Regions from separate parts of the Homo sapiens genome. Here regions 1, 2, 3 and 5 are each linked to region 4. Evidence: fine-mapped QTL for protein levels in blood plasma. A gene starts in region 4. Each other region holds a variant in brackets. All regions are shown on one strand. Distances are from middle to middle.

Region 1 (5,107 bases), 81 kb before region 4:
GTGGTGTTCTAATGGTGATTTTCCATTTCCCTCATTCCTTCTTTACTTATTAATTGGAATCTTTTTCTAAAGAAGAGCTGCCTCTTCTCCTACATTTATGTATCTACTCAAATACTTATCTTTATCACTATGGCACCACAGATATTTACTTTATTCTATGGATTATAATCCAATTACATTTTTTCTTTTTGTAAATTTTTCTAGCTTTGGGCATTGGGATCTTTTCCATTTGGCTCCTGTGCCCTTTCAACATGCCCTATTCTTTTTTGAGCACTGTCGTACTTCCTGCTGCTGCATGGGGCTAAAGTCTTATCTTGTATATTTTCTGTGCCAGCCTTGGAATCAACTATATCTCCAAGGAGTTCTGGTTCCTTTTATTAGATAAAGGTATTAGAAACAAAAATCTGGGTGACAGGTGTGCTTACTACTAACAGAGTGTCACTACTTTTAGTACCTGTCAGTGAACATGGTTTCAGAATACATATATTATACTGGTTATTGCATACACATATGTCTAAGTTTATGTCAGTATTTATCTTTAAAAATGATGAATTCATATTGATATCTACAATTCCAATCCAATACTACAGGGTTTATTCTAGCTATCCCTTTTCTTATATATAACTTTTCTATTATAGACAAAGAGAAAACTGACTCTCATTTTCTTCAATATATGCATGTATTTTTTTCAACCCTAGCATACAAAGAAAATAGCTTCTGAAATATGAATCTGTACCCATTTGGGAACAAATTTACTAAGGAAAGTATATTATTTGTGTGCAGTTCTTTTTGTCTTTAGCCTCATACTATTCAATCAAAATATTGTTTTCCAAAATAAGTTAGTTCTTCTTTTACACCTCCTGTAGTGTTCTGTTACTCATTTTTAATACAGTTAGATACATTTGCTACAGTTTGTATTCTAGTTGGGGTTCTTCCCAGGCCTGGTGCATTTTAAAACCTTTATGTAGCATATAATTCAGTATTTGTATGCAGTGTCCCTGTTCAGATTCCTTTGTGTTTCAGCCTTCTCATCACAGGGCCCAGAGGCCAGGTGTTGAGGTATACATGGGAAGCCTATAGACCTCTCTTATCTGTCTTTCTGTGTTCTCGCCCCATGATCAGTAGTCACTAGGTTTTTAAAATGTATGGTTTGTATGCATACACATTTTTTTTTCTGAGTTCTTTATACAGCAGTTCAAGTAATTCACATGGAAAATCTATTTCATGAAAACTCCTTCTCCAGAGTTTGTCTCCCCAGAGCTAAATTCTGGTGGATGGGAATAATATACACTTTGTAGTTCAAAAAGTTCGGGGAACTGAGGATCCCAAAACCTTCCTAGATACAGCTGAAGTTTTGAGCCTTTACTTTAGTCATCAGCTAGCAATGTAGTAAATATGATTCAAGAATGACTGTTCAATTCTGCTCAACAGCTATAGGAGATCTAAAATGCCAGGCTTTTGCTTAGTAGTAAGACTGCAGAATCCTTAAAAACTGCAAACTCTCTTGTTCCATACTGTGGACAATCTTTCATCCCACATGTGAAGTTTTGACATCTGTGGCAGCCATGACTGAATGCAACCCAGGACTTCTTTTTGATATCTGTTAACTATACTTCAAATATCTGTATAACCAAATAATTCATTGATCTTAAATGAAAAAAGTCTCAGATTTTCCTGTTCTCCTTTGTATTCCTGATACTCTTTCATTTCGGAGCAAAATTTCTAGTTTTAAAGTTGGAAAGACTAAAGAATTCAGCCAGTTTACAGCTTCAAAAATAAATGATATGCAGAAGATAAGGCTGTCTTGCAGTAGTAGAATAATAGAATCTTCCCACTGAAATGTACAGTTTCCTCCATTGAATTGTGAAGGGCAGATGATAGAAGAAAAAAAAAAAAAGATACGAGTGATGCTGTCTACCCACTTTTTTTCCCTAAGGAAAGTGTTGAAGATGTTTCAAAAATAATAGGAAAAAAATATTCAATTTTATCTCCATGCAGGGATTCTTATTTTAGAATAGTAGGAAATGGCTATCAAAAATAAT[A/G]GGAAAAAATAATATTCAATTTTATCTCCATGCAGGAATCCTTATTTTAGATTAGTAGGAAATGGCTTTCTACCACTCTGAAAAGTCTCTTCTTGGCCAAACATCAAAGTCTGGAGCCAGAGATGTAAGCAGAAATGGGGCGGAAAGAGCTCACATGTTGAATCAATCAGCCTTGATTTGAATCAACCTTCCATCAATTACCAGCTAAGTAACTTTAAAAAAGTCACTTAATCTCTCTGGCTTTCTATTTCCCCATCTGGAAAGTAACACATACCTCACAGGTTGTTATTAGGAACAAATAAAAAATTTGTGTCAAGATGCGTGGCACATAATAGGTTTTCTGTAAATGTTAATTGAATAAGAAAATAGCCTTGGTTCAACATATTTTGCCTTTAAGCCAACGACAATGATAGCATTTCATGCATATTGGTTTCATTGCCTGACTACTTAGGCAATGTTATTGAACTTACAGTGTTGTGACATTGTTACACAGGAGAAGCAAACGTTGTCTCTGATGGATGGCAGCTCACACTCTAGAGCTAACACTTCGTATACAATCACAGATGAAAGGAATGACTTGCTAATGTCTATAGCAAAATTCTGGCCAAATATTTGATGTCGAATGTTATTCTCCAGGTGGGAAGGAGCACAATCTTAGCTTGACACCTCAAATAAAGCCCCTTTTTAAGAAAAAATAAATTCTCCTTAGGGAATTTTCTCAAGAATGCTTCTTTTTTCATATCCAATGGCTTTTTTTTTTTTAAGCTTGCAGTTTCTGGAAAAAGCTGTACAATATCAAAAAGCATTTCATTTAATAAAGCATTTATCTGCACCTTTAAAATTCAGATTACTTCATGGAAAGTTACCATATAATTTAAACTTTCTTAGTTAAATCTCATTAGTAATGAATCCATATCATTAATACAATTTCATATGTATTACATTAACCTATAATATAATAACTATGTAATTTATTATGTAGACCGAGACACTTTGGAGAGTGAAAGTGGGCTTTATTAATTATTATCCTGAAGTCATAATGTGAGCATAAGTGGGGCCACATAGGGACAGCCTTGGACAAAAAATGTTTACTAGGCCTACTACTGACACCTAAGAGGACTGCTCACAAGGTACTGTGAAAGGAAGTAGGGCTGTTTAGATTCAGCAGAAGCATATTGTGATTATTTTTCTTCCTGAATTGGGAGATTTGCATGCCACTTTCATTTCAGCATTAACTGTTATTCCAAGAAAAACTCTGTAGACTTAAATTGTCCTCAAATTTTAAGGCAGGAACAGAATTCCTGTATTGATGGCATGGACTTGGATTTATTACTTGCTAATGCATTAACAACAGTAAGTCAATTTATGACTATTAGATTTGAGCTTCATTATATGGTACCTGTTTCACCAAAAAGGGCACATTGCTTTTAGCAAGATATATTGTTAAAAGGGGGTCTGGGCTTTTAAATGAAGTGTGAAGGGAAACAAAGGTGCCTATTTATATATTGTATTCTATAGGTATTTCTGCTTAAGTATTATTTACAGTATATACAGTATATATTTTAATCTATTGAATTTATGTTAGATGCAGTAGAAGTTGTTTTAATATACTGCAATATTTTCTGTCAGGCAATTTGCTTAATAACATAATAACATAAATTACAATCTTCAGTACTTGCTATTATAAGTAATTCACAGCTACTTAAAACTTTCGATAATAGCATGTCCCCCTATTCAGGGACCAGGCAAGATATATTTGTTTCATCTGTGTCTGTCTTTTCCAAGATTTCTATGTTCATTCTGACAATTTACCATCTAGCTACATCTTCCAGCTAGTATATTACTAACACTCTGAAATATTTAAAGAAAAAAACTAAATGGTTGAATTAAAATACAAATCGAATTAATAAGTTTGAGTCGTTTTTGGATTAAAACCAGATTCTATGTAATATTTAACACATTTATTCCCAATTACATTTGTGAACACATTTTCTCTTTATATAATTAATTCATTTTATAATCCAAATAATATTTTTAAACTGTTTACTATGGAGCACTATTCCCATTTTTGGGATGTCAATGTAAGATGGGCCTTGTCTCAAAGAGTTGACTCTAATACTTTCATTATTTAGAACAAGGCAACAGAGTAAGAATTATGACTATATATTTGCATTATATGTGCTCAGGGTTCAGAAAAAAATGCGTAAAATATGCAAATTCTAAAATTATTTTGAAGTCTAGCTACTTAAAAGGTCAAATAAGTGTTTTCTTCTCGAGAGCTAATGGAGATGGAGAAAAATCCACCAAACAAAGAGGTGCAATTTGGCCCTGCATTCATTAGCTTCTCCACACACTGTCACCTACCCAGACAAGAGGAGATACTTACCCAATGTTCCAGGGGCTACCTGAATGAGTACATTTCCCAAAGAGGCAACCCTGTTTTCTGCTAGTATTTAATTATTTCTTTTTCTCCCCTCTATTAAACAAAGGTCTTGGTGAATATTCTTTGCAAAATCCACTTATTTCCCTCTTTCATGAATGTTAGATTGTACAAAATTTTATTGCAGAGTAAAACATCTTTAATGCAAATACTCTAATGTAACACATTTTGTATGAAGTATTGTGAATTTAGGTATTTCATTTACAAAGAGCCACTGACTAAAAACACTTAGCAATTGATACTCTCTCTGTGAAGACCAAAAAAGGCATATAGAAATTCATCAAATTAATAAATATTTGGGTAATTATGACTTATCCAAGATTGATTTCAAATAGTATACATTGTTTTCTGCAATTCAATTTTGAAATTTATAGCTAAATTCAATGAGACCAAGTAGGGCATTTGAAATCATCATAAACCAGGTGAGAAAAGAACAAATTATCATTTCCAGAATCTTGAAGAATCAAGGATAAAGAGACTAAAAATTAAACATATGAATAATTCAAATAGCCACAAATAAAGAATATAGAAATATATGCCGTGTGAGATTGCACTGACTGTTGTAAACTGAAATAAGCACAAAAATACTTACATGAAGTCAGCATGTGCTCAGGTGAATACCTTA
Region 2 (5,107 bases), 290 kb before region 4:
AGCTTCCACTTAGTACCTCAACCCATGAGTCATGAATTACAGAGCAGGGATACACATTGTAAGAACTTTGTGAGATACCTTAAAATGTGTCACCCCCTGATTAATTATGTTGATCACCTCCTGTTTATTTGCCTCTTAATGTTAAGCAGTACGACACTTAAATGTAAGTATATCTGGTGTGAGTCTTTAGTGGTAGCAAAGAAAGGATGAGGAAAGTGGGTAGAAGGGATGAAGGTGGGAAGAGTTGAAAAGAATGTGACCTGTTTTATATCCAGTTATGAGGGGGATGGCCCAGAAATCCAAGTCATAGAGAGGGTACTGGTCCCCCAGAAAGGAGAGGGAAGTGGGCTAAGTTCCTGGGCCTGTGGTGGTGAACCAATGTCTGGATGCACCTGAGAAGGAACCCTGGGCCCTTTGAATGTCTGGATCGGGAGATTACTCCTTGCACAGGTCACAGTCTCCTTATAAACCTACCTTATTTCATCCATTCTTAAGAATTTCTCGAAAACCTTATCTTGAATTTAATTAGTTAGGTACTACTGACATTGGAAACTTGAAAAAACAAACAAAAAAAAGAGAGAGAGAGAGAGACTTAGAGAAAGACTCTTCCTTAATCTTCCCTGGTTGAAGTTGGTTGGATGGGGTGTAGTGGGAGCATGAGAAAGTTATTGTGGAAAGGAGGCAGAAGAGCTGGTGGCAGAGCTTTTGCTGAAAACTAAAATGATTTGAAAGCAGCAAAAGACATGAAAATTACTTTCCCATAATTATGGCTAGAAATGATTTTTTGATGCCTTCATGTTGATTTCTTGTATCACCTTCTGGAGGCCTGGAACTTCATATTCAAGATACCAGGTTATAACATTTAAATTAAAATGACCTTAAAGTTTTTTTTTTTAATTCCGTGCTTTGAATCCGGGTAATGTTAACCTTGATTTTGTTTGACCCACTGGAAATGTTTCCACTTGGCTCATTTCTGTGGGCAGCAATGGATTAATTCTTTCAGTGCCCAGCATTCTGCCCATTGCTGATTTTGGCTCTGGGCAACAACAGCTCATCTCTGGACTCACCTCTATTCCCCGGTAGGAAAAAAGGAACTCTCAGTGATGAGGGACTAACCTTGTGGGTAGCAGGCAGTTTTTGTGGTCAGATGGGTAAAACCAAGGCAGGCAAGGACTGACAGTCACAAATGCAGTTTAATAATTTCTCTCTTTTTCTTCCATTCTCACTTTTCAGTTTCCGTTCTCATTCTCATGACTACTCAACATATTCATGACTTCTCTTAAACTTCTGAACTACTCTTAAGCCCTTCGTTTATCAGGAAACCTCATCTCCCATCCTGTGGAAAAGGGAGAACCCCCATAACCTCCCTTAATTTTCCATGAATGCCAAGCTGTGTGGACCCCTCCATAGCTCCTTCTTTTCTGTCCTCCCCTGATCTAATATTTCTTCCTCTCTATTGGTTCGTTCTCTTCTGCTATATACGTGCTCAAAAGTCTCATTTTCTACAACCTAACATTTCTTACACAATATTGTCTGCTCCAGAAGCTCCCAAGCTCTCTCCTGTCCTTCATCAATGTAGTTTTTAAGTGGAAAGTATCCACTTGCTGTTTTATTTTTCCATTCCATTTTTATTGCTCACCACACAGAAATTAAGCTTCTGCCCCTTCCTTTCTAACGAGGCTGTTCCTATGGTGGTCATTACCATATACTTACTTCCTAATTGCCAAATCTAGTTTTGTCATTTCAATTATTATTGTATTTTATTTTGAAACGATTATTCGTAACCATTTTGTTCCTGCCATTGTTTTAAGCATTTTCCATATATTATCCAATCTAGTTCTCAACATATTCCTGTGTATTAAGTGTTATATTTCACATTTTATAAAGAAGGAAGCAGCTTTGCTTGACACTATTAACAACTTCCTCCATCTGGCACATTTTCTCCTCTTGGTTTCTGTAAGACGACTGTAGTCATCTTTATTTTTTTCTGACACCCATTCTTTCTCAGTGACCTAAATCAATCCCACATTCATATCTGTGTGCCTGTCTCAATATCCTTTCCCCTTGTGTTCCTGATTCATGTTTTTAACTACATAATTAGTATCTCTCCATTCATGCTCAAGAAAACAAGCCTAACTCATTATCCTACCATTCATGTTTTTGGTATACATTTATAGAATCTGTAGACTCTATATCACATGCCTGGAATTGTTTGCTGTGCTGAGGGCATTAAGATGTGCAAAGCACAGCCCTGTCCTTGAGGACCAGGAGATGAACTTGCAAACAATTATAATACAAAGTACAGGTACTACCACAGGAGTATGAGAAGCAGCAGGTCAAGAAGCAACAGAAGGGAATCTGTAGCTGCTGGATGGTTCAAAAAAGTTTCCTAAAAGAGATGAAAACTTCCGACATCACTATGAAAAAGATTTCTAAGGAGAAAAGGAGAGAGAAAAGTAATACGTACTACAAAAGGGCCCAGCAAATACAAACGTGTGGAGGTTCTAGAGAGAGACTGGTATCTGAAGGACAGCCATGGTTTACTAGCTTAGATGCTGAGGGGTCAGCATTCTCTACACGGTTGACAACATCACTATTGAATTATTTATCTAGGAAACATCTGGCTTTCCCATCCTCTGATAAATCCTCCACAATTATTTATGATAAGAACCTTAACAAGGGCAGTGACCACAGGAAGAAAGAGAAGATATGACAGGCAAAATAAGTCCTATGGAAAATGGAGTCAAC[A/G]ATTTTTACAGTTGCAATCAGTATTGTTGACTCCATTTTCCATAGGACTTTTTTTGCCTGTCATATCTTCTCTTTCTTCCTGTGGTCACTGCCCTTGTTAAGGTTCTTATCATAAATTATTGTGAAGGATTTATTGCTTAAGATTTGAGAAAGGAACTCTGCCTTCTCTGTTATCAAGCCCTTAACCCTTTTCAAAAATAAATATGCCTACATATCCAGATGCCCTATTCAGCTAACTTAAAATTATGCTGGTTTTGAATTTTGAAATAGAACTAAGCAATTTTGAAAACATCAGAATAACTTTTCTCAATGTGAAATCAGTTAACAGTGAACCCCATTTTTTTTTAATTTATGGAAGGTATTCTTGTCATTTTACTTATCAGAGTGCAGTGATCAGCATCAGAGACCAGGAAGACATGGTTATATCAAGTGCAAGAAAACTTAAGGGATAAACAAGGGTGTCTCTGAAAAGAATGTTAGGAGAAGAATGTGTCAGTGTGTCAGTAAAAGGACTTGGAATATGATGATTACCAAAGAAGCTATGGAAGAAGCCAGAAAAGCCAGCTATATTTTGTTAAGAGATAAAGGAAGAAAAAGAAATGGTAATGGGTGATATATTTATGCAGTCATGTTCCCAGCTGCACCACACCATGGGCTGAGATGGCTTTGAGTGAATCTTAATCCTCACCCTAACAAATGGTTTATGTGTGAAAATAATACTTTGTTTCTTTTCTCTTAATTCTTTTTCAAATAGTTTTGTAGATTTTGTTTTATCCTCACCCTAACTTTACGGATAGGAATTATTATTGTTCATTTCACAAAGGAAAGAAACTGAGGCAGAGTGGTTAAGAGGTTTGCCTAAGATTTTCAAAAAGCTAGTAATGAACAGAGCTATAATCAGTTCAGTCATACAAGAACTCTTGCTATTACATGAGCCTAAGAGTCAAGTATTGAGAGGACTGAAATTATGTACCAAAATACAGAATTCTTGAATGCTGATTCTGAAAATTTTGTAAATCAATATAAAATTTGCAGACATGCTAAATACATTTTCTAGAAAATATCTGAAAGTTACTTGCTCTAAGCTTGGATGATAAAGTTTTGTTCTTTGTTAATATTATTTGCTCAGGCATGTTCCAAATTTCATATAGCCATCTTATTATCTCCATATTTGCAAATATAGCTATCATACTGGACACTGTAATTTGGGCCTTACTAAATTAGTCATCATATAATTTGGTATTTGGTAAATTTGGTTATCATATAAATAACCACAACAGGTGTTAAAAAAACTATATTGTATTGCTTACTTCCTGCCAATATGTCTCTTTTCCTCTTCTAACTATGTAAAAAAATTACTTTTTGTTTTTCCCTTTTTAAAAATCAGCTACAGTATTAAAAGGAGGAAATGTGTTTCTCACAGTGCTAGGTCCGTTCTCATGGGATCGAATAACAGAGTCCTGGCTAAGGGCTCAAATGCCCTGCTCAAATCCTCAGACAATTCCAACATCCCCAAAAACTCTGAAAGGAATAAGTAAAATTAACTTCAGTTGTTTCCTTAAATATATCTTGTAGAATTTTATAAATGTACATATTAGTTTGTTGTCACACTGCTATAAATACCCAAGACTGAGCAATTTATAAAGGAAAGAGGTTTAAATGACTCACAGTTCCATATGGCTGGGAGGCCTCAGGAAATTTACAATCATGGCAGAAGGAGAAGCAGGCATGTATTACATGGCAGCAGGTGAGAGAGAGTGTGTATAGGAAAAACTGTCAAACACTTATAAAACCATCAGATCTCGTGAGAACTCACTATCACGAGAACAGCATGGGGGAAACTGCTCCCATGATCCAATCACCTCCCACAAGGTCCTGCCCTCAGCACCTGGGGATTATGGGATTATAATTCAACATGACATTTGGGTGGGAACACAGAGCCAAACCATATCAATGTACTTATTGCAATCTGCTATGGCTGTATTTTCAAGACTAGGGACAATTGTGACAGAACCTGACAGTCATGAGACAAGCTTATTAACCTCATTCTTTTACCTGTGGTAGAGGCATGTGAGTGGGCCCCCGCACTGTTGATGACTTCTTCCCAAATGTCAAGTCTTTCTTAAGTCTTTAAGGGATGAAATACTATCCAAGGTCAAAAAGAGCCCTTTTTAGTCTCCCCTTCAGGTTCTGTGAATTTGCTCTCTCCAGGGATGGATGGCGGAACTGCTATAGTACCCGACAAACAGGAAATCTCCAGAGCAATTCTGTATGTACAGCCTGCTTTTCCTTGCTTTCATCAAGTTTAATCTATTTCCTTTAACAGTGCGTAATTTCAGACAATACATGCATGTTCTCT
Region 3 (5,107 bases), 500 kb before region 4:
ACATGGGCAGAATTTGCAGATCTCCGGCGATCAAAGCAGGAGCTGTCCAGTCCCGCCTCACCTGTGCCCTGTAGGCCACTTGTAGGGTGGAGGGCTCCAGCGGGAGCGGAGGGGGCAGAGAAGGAGGGAGGGAAGACTCGATAGCGTGGCGCAGCCGGAGCCCGCCTCCCCGCCCCTCCACCCCTGCACCCCGCCCCCAGCCCCGTCCAGCTTTTCTCTAGCTTTGGGGCTCGTGTGCGCCCACTGTTTCAGCAGTGATGCACTCTCTTTGTCTTATGACTTCGGGAAAGGGCGGGTCCTGTCTGTGGAGGGCTGGGTTGCAGTCGGAGGGCGCCTTTTGTTGGCAGGTGGGCTGGGGAGCAGGCTCGAGGCTGCTTGGCACCCGGCTACAGGGAGGATAGGCTTTGCGAACTCTAGACTAGACCGAGTCACCTGGGGAAGTCCTTCGACCTCCTAGCTTGCCTTTGCTGAGGCTCATTCCAAAGAGGGTCTTTTGGGGGATGGTCTGGCACTCCGACACGACTCCAACCGACCTGGAGACCGAGAACTTATTTCTCAGTCTCTCCTTTCTGAGGCTGCGGTGGGGGATCTTTCATGGTTTCCAGTCTCCCCTCCCCTTCTCCATGGGCTCCTTGTCTGGATTTACCAGTTCTACCCTGAGCCTGGACCCTTCAACCCTCCCGTGAGCCCCCCGGTCCCTCTTGACCTTGCTGCTTACTCTCTGTCCCATCTCTTACAGCCACACCCAAGCACCTCCCCTAGCACATCCAGAGGCCCTTCTGATTCGAGCTTGGGGTCTTCGTAGTCTTCGCTGGTAACACCCCAAGCAGTGCGCCCACCAACGTGGATGTTAACTCTCTCCCCAGCACCCAACTTCCCTCTTCTCTGGCCGCCTCCATCCAACCCTCCACTCCCTACTAGGGAGAGGAGGAACTGGTACTTTGACCCTGAGGTGGGAGGCCAAAGGTCCTGTGCCTTTTTCTAAAGCCTCTTGGGATGGCATTCCAGGCCCTAGGTTTGAAAGGCTGTGTGTGTGTGTGTGCGCGCGCGCGCGTGTGCGTGTGTGTGTGTGTGTGTGTGTGTGTGTCAGGCCTCTCCTCTACTTGCCTAAGGTCCCCATGAGGCAGCGGGGGCCTAGTTAGAGTGCTGCTCTATCCCAGAAGTCATCGCAAAGGGGGCATCTTTAGGTCAGTTCTGTCTCTAAGAAACAGAAGCAAGTGGGCTGTAGTTCCCTGAGAATCTTTTTCCCTTCCTTCCCCCCACCCCCTCCCCGCTTTTTTTGCTTTGCCTTAAGGAAGAATTTCTGCAGAAGTTAACTCCATCAGCAGCTTCTGTAAATAAAAGGGACTATTCTAAAGCAGGTTACTCTTTCTAAATGTAAAAGAAGAAAAAAAGGTTAATGCAAGTAAAAGTGGATAACCAAAAACTATAATAAACTCTTGTTTTATTCTAATTAAAGGCACTCACTTGGGAGACCACTTTGGATGATTTTTTGAAGTAACTGGGAGTGAAAGAATTTGAAAGGGTTACTGGTCATTCCTAGAAGGGGGTTTACAGGGAGCAATCCACATTCAAATTTTTTTCTAACTAGGCAACAATGTTTGAAGTTTTCTAGGTTCTAGGAACAACAACAACAAAAGACCTGAGGTTGAATTGTATATTCCAAGAACATTTTTAACATTTCCCTGAAATATCACCGTTACAGAACTAACAAAAAACTTTTAAAGTGGAAATCATTTTTATCAGGAAAGAAAAACTTCAATACTACATCATAACAAATTTTTTTCTGCATATCAGAAGAGTGAGAAATGATTTCTAAGAATCATTGTTACCACTGTGCTGAATTACCTTTGCAGGGCATATGTGTGTATTTGTCCTGTGTTGCTGAGAGTCAGAGACTAATTCTGAGCAAAATGACTCAGGGTGGTAATGCAACAGATTTATGAAAGAAACCCTCCAAATACCCTTCAGTGAGGTTATCTGATAACGCTTCTGGGGTCAAGTTGGCTCAATCATTGGATTTGCAATAGATATCCCAAGTTTTAAACATTTCATTGTAGGTTTTGTTGTTGTTGTCAAAATAGTTTAAAACATAGAATGTTTTTAGAAGTGTGATTATAATTTCTCTTTTAGCCAAAAAAGAAAAATCCTCAGCAAGTTTTTGAGAATTAGAGGACTGTAAATTGAAGCAGACATCTATAAACTTAGAGGGAAAACGTCTCTGCTAAAGGCAGCAGAGTGAACTGATAACTTGAAAAGCATTCCTGGAAACTGATGCAAATACCAAATGCCGCTGTGCTCCCTCCCTGCTGATGTGGCAGGGTTTGAAGCAGGCAGCCGTCAGCATTTGGTGGGAGGCCCTGGACCTAGAAACA[A/G]AAAATGAAAGTGGAGAAAACCAAACAAGAATCTTTCTTTCTTAAAGTGAGAATCAAGTTCTAATTGCAGCTGTTTTTCCATATAACTTGGGGGAAAATAGTTGATTAGGTGTTTGTTTTAAAGGAGGAATTTTTAGTGGTCAGTTAGATCTCTGTTAAATATTTTTGTGACTCCAAATAAGGAGCAGTTTTTCCTGGGGATGGGGGTGGGACTGGTAGAGCTGTGAGAGCTGACCCAGAACCTGAACTGAATGCCCTGGTGAGGGCCCTGATGGTTCTAGTGTGGGGAGAGGGGAGAGGGAGGGAGGAGAAAATGAGTAGAAGGAAAAACAAGTAAGGGGTGGGGTGGGGTCAAGACTGAGAGTAGAGGGATGGAAGAAGGGAGGCAGAGGAGACTAAAGATTCCTACAACTTTGGTGCTAGACGGTTAATACCTGGGTTCCTATGCCCAAATTATTTTCTATGAAAGAAAAGATAATTTCTTTAGCTTCCTATAACCCACTGATTACAAACTGGGCCACATGTTTATATATGGCAAGAAAATGGTTGAGAGTCTGGCTAATACAGAAATGCAGAACAGCCTGACGAGGCCCTGATGTCTTAATCTTATATTCCTTTCTTTGATCAAAGGTAAACATCGGACTGACATCTCCTTTCAAACATTCATTGAGGATCTACTCTGTGAGAAGAAGCAATACCATGTTATCTCATTCTAGTTCCAGTTCTAGTTGACTTGATTGTCAAACGACTGCTAAGAAGGTATTTGCTGAGAATTAATGTGGTAGCTGAAGAGTTAAGTGCTGGTTTTTAATTTTGTATTTATTTATTTATTGAGAAGGTCTCACTTTATCACCCAGGCTGGAGTGCAGTAGTATGATCTGGGGGCACTGCAGCCTCGAATTCCTGGATTCACGTGATCCTCTTGCCCCAGCCTCCCTAGTGGATGGGACTACAGGTGCATGCCACCATGCCAGGCTAATTTTTTGTATTCTTTGTAGAGATGAGGTTTCACCATGTTGCCTAGGCTTTTCTTAAACTCCAACTGAGCTCAAGTGATCCACCTGCCTCTGCCTCTTAAAGTGCTTGGATTACAGGTGTGAGCCACTGTGCCCAGCAAGGGCTGATTTCTTTCTGTGATATTTGTTTGAAAGGCATGGAGATTCCTGCTCTGTGTCATATCAATTAGGATATTCAGTTCCCATTGATTATTTAAATGAGTCAAGATATATATATATATATTTTTTTTTTTTTGAGACAGAGTTTTTGCTCTGTTGCTCAGGCTGGAGTGCAATGACACGATCTCAGCTCACTGCAACCTCTGCCTCTTGGGTTCAAGCGATTCTCCTGCCTCAGCCTCCCAAGTAGCTGGGATTACAGGTGTCCACAACCACCCCTGGCTAATTTTTCTATTTTTCAGTAGAGAGGAGGCTTCACCATGTTTGCCAGGCTAGTCTGGAACTCTTGACCTCAGGTGATCCACCCACCTCGGCCTCCCAAAGTGCTAGGATTACAGGCATGAGCCACCTCGCCCAGCTGGTAAGATGTATGTTTACTCAAGCAATATTTAGTGTTATGCCAGGCACTTACTGGGTTGGTGGGTATATAATTATGAAACAGAATGCCAAGGTCATTGCCCTCAGGGGGCTTATAGTCTGTTGGAGGATAGAGAAGAGTGTGATGAATACTGTAATGGAGGAATAGAATGCTTACATGTTTATGGGAGGATTTAGGATGGACACCTCATCTAGATTCAGATAAGTGGAATCAAGGAGGGCTTCCTGGAGGATGCAACATCCTTGTTCAACCCTTAAATACAAACAAAATTTTAAAAAGAGGTGTGAGAGTGGTGTGGGCACAGAGGCATTGAAAAATTTGGCAATCTGAGGAATGGAGCATTTCAGTACGATGGGATTGTGGTGGAAAAGAGGGAGGATAGAGGAAGGAGCTAGAGATGAGATTGGTGGTTTTGGCAGGGACCAGATCAAAAAGGACCTTTTAGGCTGTATTCTGGTGTTTGTGTTTTCTCAAGTGTGCTATGGGAGTGTTTAGATTATTTTAAACAGAGAGGGTAGGAAACCAGAGAGTGTTTTGAATAAGATGACTGGGGCTGCAGTGTGGAGAAACGATTAGAAGGGGAGCACAGTAGAGACAGGGAGAACAGTAAGGAGACTGCAGCAGGAATTCTGAGGGGAAATGATGGTGGCCTGAACTAGGATAGATGTGGTGGAGCTCAAGAGAAGTTGATGAGCTATAGAAATGTTTCAGAAGTAGAAGAAAAGTGCTCTGATGTTTGGTAATGGGGAGAGAGAGAGAGAGGAAGAATTCAAGGGGATGACTTAAGGAGCACTGCCAGTTTCTGGCTTTGGCAACTGGATGACTGGAGGTGCCATCCAGTGACTTGGGGAACATTTGAGGAGGAGATAGCTTGGGGTGGGGAGGGGAGGATAAAGAGGCCAATTCATGTTCAATTTTGGGTGATTGTGGGCCACCTAAGAGGAGAAGTCTCATAGATAATTAGATACTTAGGCCTCAAGTCCACAATCTCTATTTGGCCTTGACTTATGGATAAAGGAGTCATCAGATGACTGATGTCATGGGAGTGATGAAATCTCCCAGATTATATGTGTGTGTGAAAGTAGAAAACAATCAAACATAGGACAAAACTCTGAAGAGCTCCAATGTTAAAGAATGAACAGAAGAGGAAAATCATCAAGGCAACTGAGAAGGAGCAG
Region 4 (5,107 bases):
AGCCATTGTGTCCAGTGGTTCATTTTTTTTTTTGTATGAGCGAAAGACAATCAAAAAGTGTCCAGCACCTGAGAACAAAGAGAAATGGCAGTAGTCAGTGCTCCATGAAAACTGAGTATCAGTCCTTGAATTTTATTTTAGTCTAAAGATATATTTAATTTTATTCAGAAGATAGATATAGGTAAGTTTGAAGTTGAGTCAACTTTTCTCCTGAATATGATTCTCGGTAAATGAGTGGTAAAATTCCCTCCCCTAATAATATTTTGAAGGAACTGGGAGGGTCTAATCTGACTTTACTCTGAATGTGTCATTCCAAAACTGGCTGTCTGTCTCAGTGGTTGGTGCATTAGAGCCAGCTCACACAGATTTTGGCCATGGGGAGCTCTGGCTCTTGGAGATCTTTTCCCACCTCGGCATTCAGTGATTCTGCAGTGGCAGCTTGAAATTGACCTTAGTGAGCACATTTACATCACAGAAATCAGTTAACTATACAAAGCATCCCCATCCCATTTATTTTTCCCTACTGGAGAGGTGATAATTAAACATTTATCCTTATAGTTTCAACTATCATTCTTAATCATAGACATCTGCTAATCAAAGCTGACAGCATTTCCAGATCAGGCTGGTTTTCCTAGGACTGTGACCTTGTAACATGACATCAGAATGACTGAAAACTGGCACAAGGATATAATGTGCAAAATACCTCAGATTATTAACCCACTTTGAGCAAGTGTGTCCTATACTTTTCAGGGCTTCCTGAAAACTTGAAAGAGAACTTCTGTAAACTACCCCCAGTATCCTCAGAAGTCAAGAATAATTATTTACTTGAGAATGTTGAATACAACAAGAGAAAAGGGGAAGGGAAGACAAGTATATTAAAATGTCTTCAAAAATATCTTTAATATTTTATGTAAAATTTCACTGTAGGTAATTGTTTGTATTAAAAAAAAAAGTGGATCACAAGCTAATATGTCAAAGGAACAGGGAACTTTAATGGATGCACTGACATTAGGAAATGTGTGGGAATACACTGATCTGGTCAAATCTTCAGAACTCCCCAAGGCTATCTCTCTGGGCTGCTATGGTTCTTCTCCAAAAACATAGATACATACAAAAACATAGCTTCATACATGCTTGGTTGGGGTGTAAAATGGTACAATCATCTTGAAAAAATCCTTTGGCAGTGTCTAACATTTCTAAGTATTTTATCCAAGAGTAATAAAAATTGCAGGTCCACACAAAGCAGCTTTTTTCATAAGAGCCCCCAAACAAACTAGAAACAACACAAATTCCAGTAATAAGACATTTGTGATATATTAGAATATTACTCAATGATTTAAAGGAACAGACTATTGATACACACAGCAACATATTTATACATTGTGGGATATTCATACGTTTTGGTAAATTCATACCTTGGACTACGCAGGAATTAAAAGAAACAGACTATTGATGCAGTGACCTGGGCGTATCTCAAAAACAGGAAGTGTGAGAAAGAAATACTACACAGTGAATACTTTATAATTCCGTTTATATGAAATTCAAGAATAGGCAAATCTAATCTATGGTAATCGAAATGAGAAGAGTGTTTGCCCCTGGCCTAAGGATGGAAGGATTGATTTAGGAAAAAGTCTGCAGGAGCTTTCTGGAGTGATGGAAATGTTCTAACTCTTTTTTTTTTCTTCTTCTTCTTCTTTTTCTTCGTTTCGAGACGGAGTTCCACTCTGCCGCCCAGACTGGAGTGCAGTGGCGCCATCTGGGCTCACTGCAGCCTCCGCCTCCTGGGTTCAAGCCATTCTCCTGCCTCAGCCTCCCGAGGGGCTGGGACTACAGGTGCCCGCCACCACGCCCGGCTAATTTTTTGTGTTTTTAATAGAGACGGGGTTTCGCCATGTTGGCCAGGCTAGTCTCGAACTCCTGATTTCAGGTGATCCACCCGCCTTGGCCTCCCAAAGTGCTGGGATTACAGGCGCGAGCTACCGCGCCCAGCCAAAATGTTCTAATTCTTTATTGGTGGCTACACAGTTGTCAAAATTTATCAAACTGTCCACCTACGATATATTATAAGCCTGTATTAAATGTAAATTAGAACTCGATTGAAATCTGTGTGTATAAATATAAATATACACTTATTTACATTTCTAATCTAATCTGAAGGTCCATTGCAACGAATCCCGCTCCGCTCTGACCCAAGAACTCCGCACTTTCTCTCCACCAGCCTTTCAAATACCTGAACTTCATGCCTTCAAGAGGTGGATTCCGGCTTCTTTACAGCGCAATCACTAGCAGGTCATTTCCGTCTAGCTTGCAGATTTCCCATTACTGACACAAACGCTCCCTCAGGGCGTCCCCGTCTGGACTACAGGAGAAAGTTTGGGAGGCAGGTTCAACTTTTCAACTTGGCGGGGAATTCCTCTCCCTCTTACACAGTTTGCAGCGCGGGGGCGGCGGGGTGACAGTCCCCGTGCATGAATCAGCCACCCCTCAGGCTCCGCCCCGGCGGGGGTCGGCCGGACGCTCGCCCCGCATAAAGCGGGCACCCGGGCCGCCTGGAGCAGAAAGCCGCGCACCTCCTCCCGCCAGGCGCTTTCTCGGACGCCTTGCCCAGCGGGCCGCCCGACCCCCTGCACCATGGACCCCGCTCGCCCCCTGGGGCTGTCGATTCTGCTGCTTTTCCTGACGGAGGCTGCACTGGGCGATGCTGCTCAGGAGCCAACAGGTATCTGGCCGCTCCAGGAGCTTCTCTCCCCAACCGGCGGAGAGGGCGCAGCGGGCCATGGGGCCCCGTGTAGGCGCCCTCCAAGCCTCGCTTTCTCCAGGTCCCTGCCGCGCGCTCCGCTGGCAGGGGGGACTCGCTCCCAAGTTTGCACTTTCTCTGCAGAGGCCCCTCCGCTCGGAAGGGGACAGAACTCCCCGGGATGTTCTTTCCTCCTAGGAGCTACGCCTGACCACTTTCCCTCTCTTTTGCTCTCCTTCTGCCCCTTCTTCAGGAAATAACGCGGAGATCTGTCTCCTGCCCCTAGACTACGGACCCTGCCGGGCCCTACTTCTCCGTTACTACTACGACAGGTACACGCAGAGCTGCCGCCAGTTCCTGTACGGGGGCTGCGAGGGCAACGCCAACAATTTCTACACCTGGGAGGCTTGCGACGATGCTTGCTGGAGGATAGAAAGTAAGTGCCCTGCGCGCACCCAGGACTCTCGCGCTCCTTGCGCCGGCGGCTGGTAGCAGCTTCGCCAGTTTCCCACGTCTCGCTTTCTACAGGAAGTTTTAGCCTGGGTTTTCTCAAGTGTTAAGCAAACCTCATGGTTTTCAGTTTCTTAAAAGTAATCACAAATTTACAACCACTAACACATTTCCTGTCTCCCAACTGACATTGATCATAATTCAGTGCCTGTGCGGACTCAGGGAAAGATTTGTTCCCTCACCATGGGGTATAATAAATGCAAGAGAATAACGTGTTAGGTACAACGTAAGTGCTTCTCTGTATTTTTCATTAATTCCAAACCTATGATTTTTATCTCTCCTGGAGTACATCATTTCCTTCTGTCGATTATCCATCAATCTGAAATATTTTTAGTGGATTTTATTATTGAAGTGTGACTTAGCTCATTATATAACTCTACTTTTGTCCCGATACCCAAACATGTGTTGGATTAGTTGCGGGACATGGTGGAGATTCATAATACTGTTATATTTTAATTTATTTTTAATTTTTAAATTATATCGGTTAAGGCCTGTAAGAGAACATGGGGCTTTTCCATTCAAGGAACTGAGCCAGGGGAAAATGCGTATTCATGTGAATAAGCTTTGATTCACTGCATATGTACAATCAGAGAACACCCAGAGAAAACAGAGAGTCTTTCTACTGAACTTGAAAGATACATCACAGCTGAGTCAGCTCTGAATACACTGTTAGAAAAAAAAAAAGTAAATATCTGGATTCATGGGAGTATTCTGGGTATTTACTATCCCAACACTAATACAACTTCTCTCCCCCCACAAAATGTTGCTGAAAATACAGTGATGGTTTAATAAGAAGGCTACTTTTGACTAACATTGTTCTATTACCCTCCTTTTCCTAGAAGTTCCCAAAGTTTGCCGGCTGCAAGTGAGTGTGGACGACCAGTGTGAGGGGTCCACAGAAAAGTATTTCTTTAATCTAAGTTCCATGACATGTGAAAAATTCTTTTCCGGTGGGTGTCACCGGAACCGGATTGAGAACAGGTTTCCAGATGAAGCTACTTGTATGGGCTTCTGCGCACCAAAGAAAAGTAAATACGATTTTTATGGTATTTCTATTTCACTTTTTTGAAAAGACATTTGGGTGGAAAAAACTCAATTTGATGCGAAATTAACATGTGCATTTTCATGATTTCACATTACTTGACAAGTTAGTGACTTGTCAAGTTCTTAGGACTGGAAAGTGACAAAGCCATGATTCAAATTTTTGCTTTCTGCCTCTTCTGATTTGTTGTTTTTGAGACGGACTCTCGCCCTGTTGCCCAGGCTGGAGTGCAGTGGCACAATCTCGGCTCTCTGCAACCTCTGCCTCCCGGGTTCAAGCGATTCTCCTGCCTCAGCCTCCTGAGTAGCTGGGACTACAGGCGCCCGCCACCATGCCCAGCTAATTTTTTTTTTTTTCTTCTTTCTCTTTCTCTTTCTTTCTCTCCTTCCTTCCTTTCTCTCCTTTCTTTTTCTCTTTCTTTCTTTCTTTCTCTTTCCTTCCTTCCTTCCTTCCTTCCTTCCTTCCTTCCTTCCTTCTTTCCTTCCTTCCTTCCTTCTTTCTTTCTTTTCTTTCTTTCTTTCTTTTTTCTTTCGACGGGGTGTCACCGTGTAAGCCAGGATGGTCTTGATCTCCTGACCTCATGATCTGCCCACCTCGGCCTCCCAAAATGCTGGGATTACAGGTGTAAGCCACCACGCCCAGCCCTGAATTGTTTCTTTAGAACTATTTCTCAGCTACTCAATTTATGCATAAAAGATTAAAGTATTCATTAATGAATGTTATGACCTCAGATTTGTACACAATAAGTTATACATGTGAGATAGTGGAATATATACAGAATTAAGATGGTGAAACTTGAAAATTTCTTTCTAAAGTTT
Region 5 (5,107 bases), 170 kb before region 4:
GTAAAGCAAAATGTAGAGATTGTGCAAGGTTGAAGCTTCTCATTCCCAGTCCTCAGCATTTTGTTTTCTCCTTGAAACTCCTGAGAGTGGAGGGCCTGGAAGATGCTCCTGGCTCGGTAGGTTTATGAGAGGGTGCTGATCTTGGAGCTGCTTTCTACGGGTTGTGCTGGTGCTCTGCCCACTGCAGGTCCCGGGAACACTGAGTTATGGCAGCCAATTCTGATGATGATAAATGATCACAGCACTTGGCCTTCAAGAAGAGACCAGAGCAACCAAACAGAAATGCATGTGTCTGAGCAGTTAGACTAATTCAGTTACAACTGCTGCCACTTTTGGTTTGCAAAAGGAGCTAAGAAATGTTATAGGCAAGCTAGAACTTGAATGGAAATGTTGATCTGGTTTCCTCATTCATAGGAAGAGCATCATGCAACTGAAGGACATTTCTCCATTATGACTAAACCAGGTGGATAATAACATCTATTTTTCAGTTTACAGACACATGTTGTTTTTACAATGCAACAAGTTAGATATTATTTAACAGTTAACCAAGTAGAACGTGGATGCAGACAAGCCTGGTGGTCATTGAGTTATTCAGGGCTTCTATTCATTCTAAGATGATTTTTGCTATACATGCTACTAGAATTCATTTTTCAGAGATCATACTCAACCTTTCTTTTTTTCTGATTTGATGGTTTGTGCTGTTACAAAATAAAAAATAGTGGTACCTTACCATTTGTAATTTTAAAAATTCGTATGAAAGATTATTAAATATAAATTACTTATAATTTGAGGGAAAGAGGGTTATCTTTGAGCTGGAGAGAAGAGCATATCTTTCAAGGAAAAGCTAAGTACCATTTATGTAGGAAAGTAATTTATATAGAAAAGATATCAACAATCATGTTTGGAGGGCATGGTAGATATATCCAAAACAATTTGTTTATTCTCTATCATCTGAAGAAATATTAACTAAAGTCCTTGGCTATTCTTTGATTATACTGAATGAAATAGCAGCTGCATTTGACCAGGAGTTAAGTATTTCAGACAGCATTATCTAAGTTTTTACAGCATGAGCTGAATAGTAGTGAATGAAGATGAATTTACTAAAAGTTTCTCTCCTAGGCAGGATAGAACTTGCTTGTTAGGCAGAAAAATTGTAGCAAATAGTAACAAATTGAAGAACACAGCTCTAGGGATTAAGGCAGTCAACGAAGAGATGGATCTTTGTTCTCGCTGACTTTTCTCTTAGGTTGTCACTTGCAGCTAGCTCTGTGCTGAACTGGACCAGACGATGCCTGTAGGGATGGAACCAAGTCATCCTGCTTAGAAAACCAGTCTCAGAGGTGGCTACATCTCTGCTTTCATAGTGGTTTTTAGTCCACCATCCTTGACCACACTAGGTCTTGTTGCTGCACGGCTTGTTTGCTGAATAGAGTATTTCATACACAACAATGTGTGGTGCTCTCTGGCCCCATCACAAAGTTGCCTTATATGCCTAGATGTCAACTGGAATCAGAAAGTCAGAAAAGACATCTTGAACAGGCTCTGTCTAGCACAGGAGTTCTCAGGAGGCATGAAAGGGCACACTCATGCTTATTTTTCTGCGACAGGGTTCTGGCTAATATACTCATCCATCATTTTCTTTTTCTGTGCACAGAATGAGGAGATACCTTTTTATTTGGTAAAGTCTATAATATTGAAAAGTTGTCACAGAGCACGGGCCCATCTGACAGTGAATCAATGGTGATTATGAAAGCACCTTAGCCATCTTATCTGACTATATGGTTAGGAATAAGAACATTTGATTCCTTGACCAGAAATTACCACCAACTCCAAAAATAGACATAAAGGATACACAGTTCTCCTAACAAGCAAAACATAGGTCTCTTGATTCTTCTTCTGATTTTTCATTCAGCTTCACAGTGATTTTAATTACTTCAGAGCACTGACCAATTACTTCAGAGCCCTGACCAAGTGATTTTAATTCCTTTAGAGCACTGACCAAGACAGCCAAACACTTAGAAGAAAACATAACTAAATGACAGGCCGTGAAAATAATAAGACATTTTTGAGGGATGTAGCAAAAACTAAACTGTAATAAAAGTGTCTGAAGAAGCAGAGCCTAGTAATTAAATGCAAAATGAGTGAAGCAAAAGCAAAAAGAGATTTTGGGTCATCATTTCTGACTTAAGAATGATGGATAACCAGTCACCCACCAGTAGTAGGCTGGTTGTTCACCCCCAAATCTGCCCCCCACCCCAACACCACTACCCACATCCTAAAACCTGGAGCCTGTGAATATTACTTTATTGGCCAAAAAGGACTTTGAAGATGTGGCAAAGGATCCTGAAATAGGAAGATTATCCTGCATTATCCTGGTGAGCCCTAAATGCAGTCATACGTGTCTTATAAAAGGGATGCAAATGCCAGAGAAGAGGAGAAAGCGTTATGACTATGGAGGAGGAGATGGGAATGATACGACCACAAGTCAAGGAATGCCAGCAGCCAGCAGAATCTGTTAGACACAAGGGACAGATTCTGTCCGAGAGCCTCCAGAGGGTGCTGCCAACACCTTGATTTCAGCCGCCAAATACTGATTTTGAGTTTCTGGCCTCCAGAACTGTGGGAGAAAAAATTTCTATTGTTTTAAGACACCAAGTTTTGATAATTTGGTATAGCAATCTCAGGAAACTAATGGTTTCCTTATACAAACCATTCTTTTTCCTTTATAGAAACCAAACCATTTCCTTTCATTCTGTTATCTGTTACACCATCAATGAATCAGCCAAAATAGGCAATAGGCACTACAGATAACACAGTCAGCAGGCGTTTTTTTTTTTTTTCCTGGTTTATGATAATCTTCATAAAAGACCTGCCAGACACCACTCAAGAAATTTCCAAATGGCTTTCAATCTTTTGGTCTCTGTTCCTTCTGGTTTTTTTTTTTTTTTTTTTTCCAGAGTATTAACTTCATTTAGCAGTTACAGCTGTTGACCTGAAAGTCCTTATCAGCAGCATAGCAGATGAGTGAGAACAAGAGTTATGGGTCCTGAATCTATAGGGAAGCCAAAT[C/T]AAACACAGCTAGAAAAATGCCTCCACTGTGAGTAAAGACAACATATCTTCTTTCACATGTTGTACTAAGGATCAGGAGAGCTGAAATCTCATGTTGATTTCTGATGATTACCTTTGTCTTCTTGAGCAAATGACTTAGTTTCTCTAGGTCTTAGGGTCCTCATCTGTAAAATGAATCAATAAGATACACTGTGAAATTCCTTGAACCCTTAACATTCTATGAATTTATCCAGCCCTGAGTTGAAATTAAAATTTATAACAAGCTCAGCTTTATGGACAGAGTTTGTGGTCACCTCTATGGGTATCAGATATCTCATCATCCTAATCACAAATACCAGAAATTTCACCCATAGAAATGACACAGAGAGAAAGAAAGAGAATATATGTATATATATTCTTCTGTTCATTTAAAAACTTCTGGGTAAAATGACGTAACACATTAGAGTAAATTAACTTATCAATCTTTACTATAGATGTTTTCATTCTGTTATTGTTATAGACACATTACACTAGAACTATTAGCTTATATGTCTGTCTATCCCACTAAACAACAACCTTTCTGAGAGAAGGGACTAGATCTTATATACCACTGAATCCTCATGACCAAGTACTTAAATGCTGGTACAAAGCAAGTGCTTAGTAAATATTTGTTGTATAGATGCATGGCCAGCTGGGTGACTTCTCTCCCATGATAGGATATCAGAAGAGAAGTGGGCAGTAGAATGGCTGAGAAGGTCCCAGGAAGGGGAGCACAAAAACCAAAAACCAAAAACATCATCTACATCTCTTAGCTGTGATGGACAATACAGTTCCCAAATCACCTATCCCAGACTTTTCTCATAGCTTAAAACCTTCATCATGTTTCCTTGGAGAGAAAATTGGGTGCTCTTCATCAGAGGTTTGGTTTCTTTTTAAAACATTCTTTATCTCTCTGAAGCACCATTAGACTGTTAATTGAAATAAAAGAGACTTAATTTGTAACTGGGACTTGTGAAGTGGTAATTAGAAACATATGCTATATTGCATTTGAATGCTTTCCTTATTATTAGCATGTCTATTGATTCTTTTTAAACCACTCCGTTCAGTTGAATTTCAGTAGATGAATTTCAGGTATTTTTCCATTGAAAATGACAGTGAAGAAAATTGCCAAGCAATGAGACATTAAGCAAAGAAATGAGTATTTGGCTGGGCTATTTTTCATGATGTTTGCTATTTTTAAAATAATTAATACAGCTTGTAAGGAAAAAACTATGGTGAGTTATGCCCCACTCTACCTGCAAAATTAGTCTAAAAACACAATGTTATCAAGAGTGGGACTGAACTTGATTTGTAATAGATTACTCTTTAACACTTATGGCTTAAAAAAAATCAGAGAGTTCTTAATTTATAGCATCTTTAGGAAAGGGTGCTGATACTAAATTAAAAATATTCCACTCAGTTAGGTGACTCTGTGTTTAAAATCTCTTCTGTTACTAGGAACCAAGATATTTACAATGTTTTGTTTCTTTTTAGGCTGACTTGGGTACTAATATTGAGAGATATGGGACCTTTTTCCACATCCTTCTCAGACAAGCCATTCAAATCACTACAGTTATACTGTAAGGTACTTTCTATTACACTCTGGTACATTGTTATCTATAAAATATATACTCAAATAAATGAGTGACAAATACTCATCTTCATTACATAATTAAACTGGACATACTTTAGCTAATAAATAAGATTTCTCTTCGAAAACTAACTTTCTATCTCTGTTAAATCTAATCCCTGAGAAAGTTGGACCCTTAGCAACTGGTCTGTGGGTGCAAATAAGATCAAATCTAAACTACTCCTTCCTCCGCAGTCCCTGGCCCCCTTTTCCTTGTATTAGATGTCTTCGTTCACTGCCCAGAACTTCTGTTTTACCTCTAGTCTCCATGTGCCTCTTCCTGAATCATCTTCATAGTTCTCTGCTCTTCACCCTTCAATTGCTTTCTCTCTCCTTGCCTGTTTCTTAGGAAATGATATCACTCTCTGGCTTCACCAACCACAAACTAGA

Which allele goes with the higher level. Alleles are on the strand shown, and positions count from the first base shown. The strength of an association depends on the size of the effect and on how common the allele is.
In carriers of allele A in region 1, the plasma level of the protein whose gene starts at base 2,557 in region 4 tends to be higher than with G alone (weak association).
In carriers of allele A in region 2, the plasma level of the protein whose gene starts at base 2,557 in region 4 tends to be higher than with G alone (weak association).
For the plasma level of the protein whose gene starts at base 2,557 in region 4, G is the high allele of the variant in region 3 and A is the other (weak association).
As copies of T replace C in region 5, the plasma level of the protein whose gene starts at base 2,557 in region 4 goes down (weak association).

The links. PIP is the posterior inclusion probability: the model's chance that the variant is causal. Protein levels are from antibody-based Olink assays in UK Biobank. Linkage for the fine-mapping came from a reference panel and not from the study's own genotypes, which makes the PIPs less certain.
Region 1: its variant is fine-mapped to the plasma level of the TFPI2 protein (UK Biobank, PIP above 0.99).
Region 2: its variant is fine-mapped to the plasma level of the TFPI2 protein (UK Biobank, PIP above 0.99).
Region 3: its variant is fine-mapped to the plasma level of the TFPI2 protein (UK Biobank, PIP above 0.99).
Region 5: its variant is fine-mapped to the plasma level of the TFPI2 protein (UK Biobank, PIP 0.99).

Annotation. Positions count from the first base shown.
Region 1 is chr7:93,969,634-93,974,740 of GRCh38, reverse strand. It overlaps BET1-AS1 (BET1 antisense RNA 1), which reads right to left. Exons shown (of 3, transcript NR_186701.1): 1 at 5,075-5,107. It also overlaps a transcript of BET1 not described here. Among named protein-coding and RNA genes, the nearest start is that of BET1-AS1, 3.8 kb to the right of the region's middle. The variant A/G (reference allele first, on the strand shown) is at 2,043.
Region 2 is chr7:94,174,497-94,179,603 of GRCh38, reverse strand. No RefSeq gene overlaps it. Among named protein-coding and RNA genes, the nearest start is that of BET1, 170 kb to the right of the region's middle. The variant A/G (reference allele first, on the strand shown) is at 2,749.
Region 3 is chr7:94,389,432-94,394,538 of GRCh38, reverse strand. It overlaps COL1A2-AS1 (COL1A2 antisense RNA 1), which reads left to right and starts at 2,347. Exons shown (of 6, transcript NR_147206.1): 1 at 2,347-2,421; 2 at 3,006-3,134; 3 at 3,793-3,911. The variant A/G (reference allele first, on the strand shown) is at 2,376.
Region 4 is chr7:93,888,203-93,893,309 of GRCh38, reverse strand. TFPI2 (tissue factor pathway inhibitor 2) reads left to right here and starts at 2,557. Exons shown (of 5, transcript NM_006528.4): 1 at 2,557-2,719; 2 at 2,991-3,173; 3 at 4,087-4,275. The coding sequence starts at 2,632. It overlaps TFPI2-DT (TFPI2 divergent transcript), which reads right to left and starts at 2,416. Exons shown (of 2, transcript NR_134235.1): 1 at 2,231-2,416; 2 at 1-68.
Region 5 is chr7:94,062,552-94,067,658 of GRCh38, reverse strand. It overlaps LOC130890646 (a long non-coding RNA gene), which reads right to left. Exons shown (of 4, transcript NR_186703.1): 4 at 1-3,233. Among named protein-coding and RNA genes, the nearest start is that of BET1, 61 kb to the right of the region's middle. The variant C/T (reference allele first, on the strand shown) is at 3,070.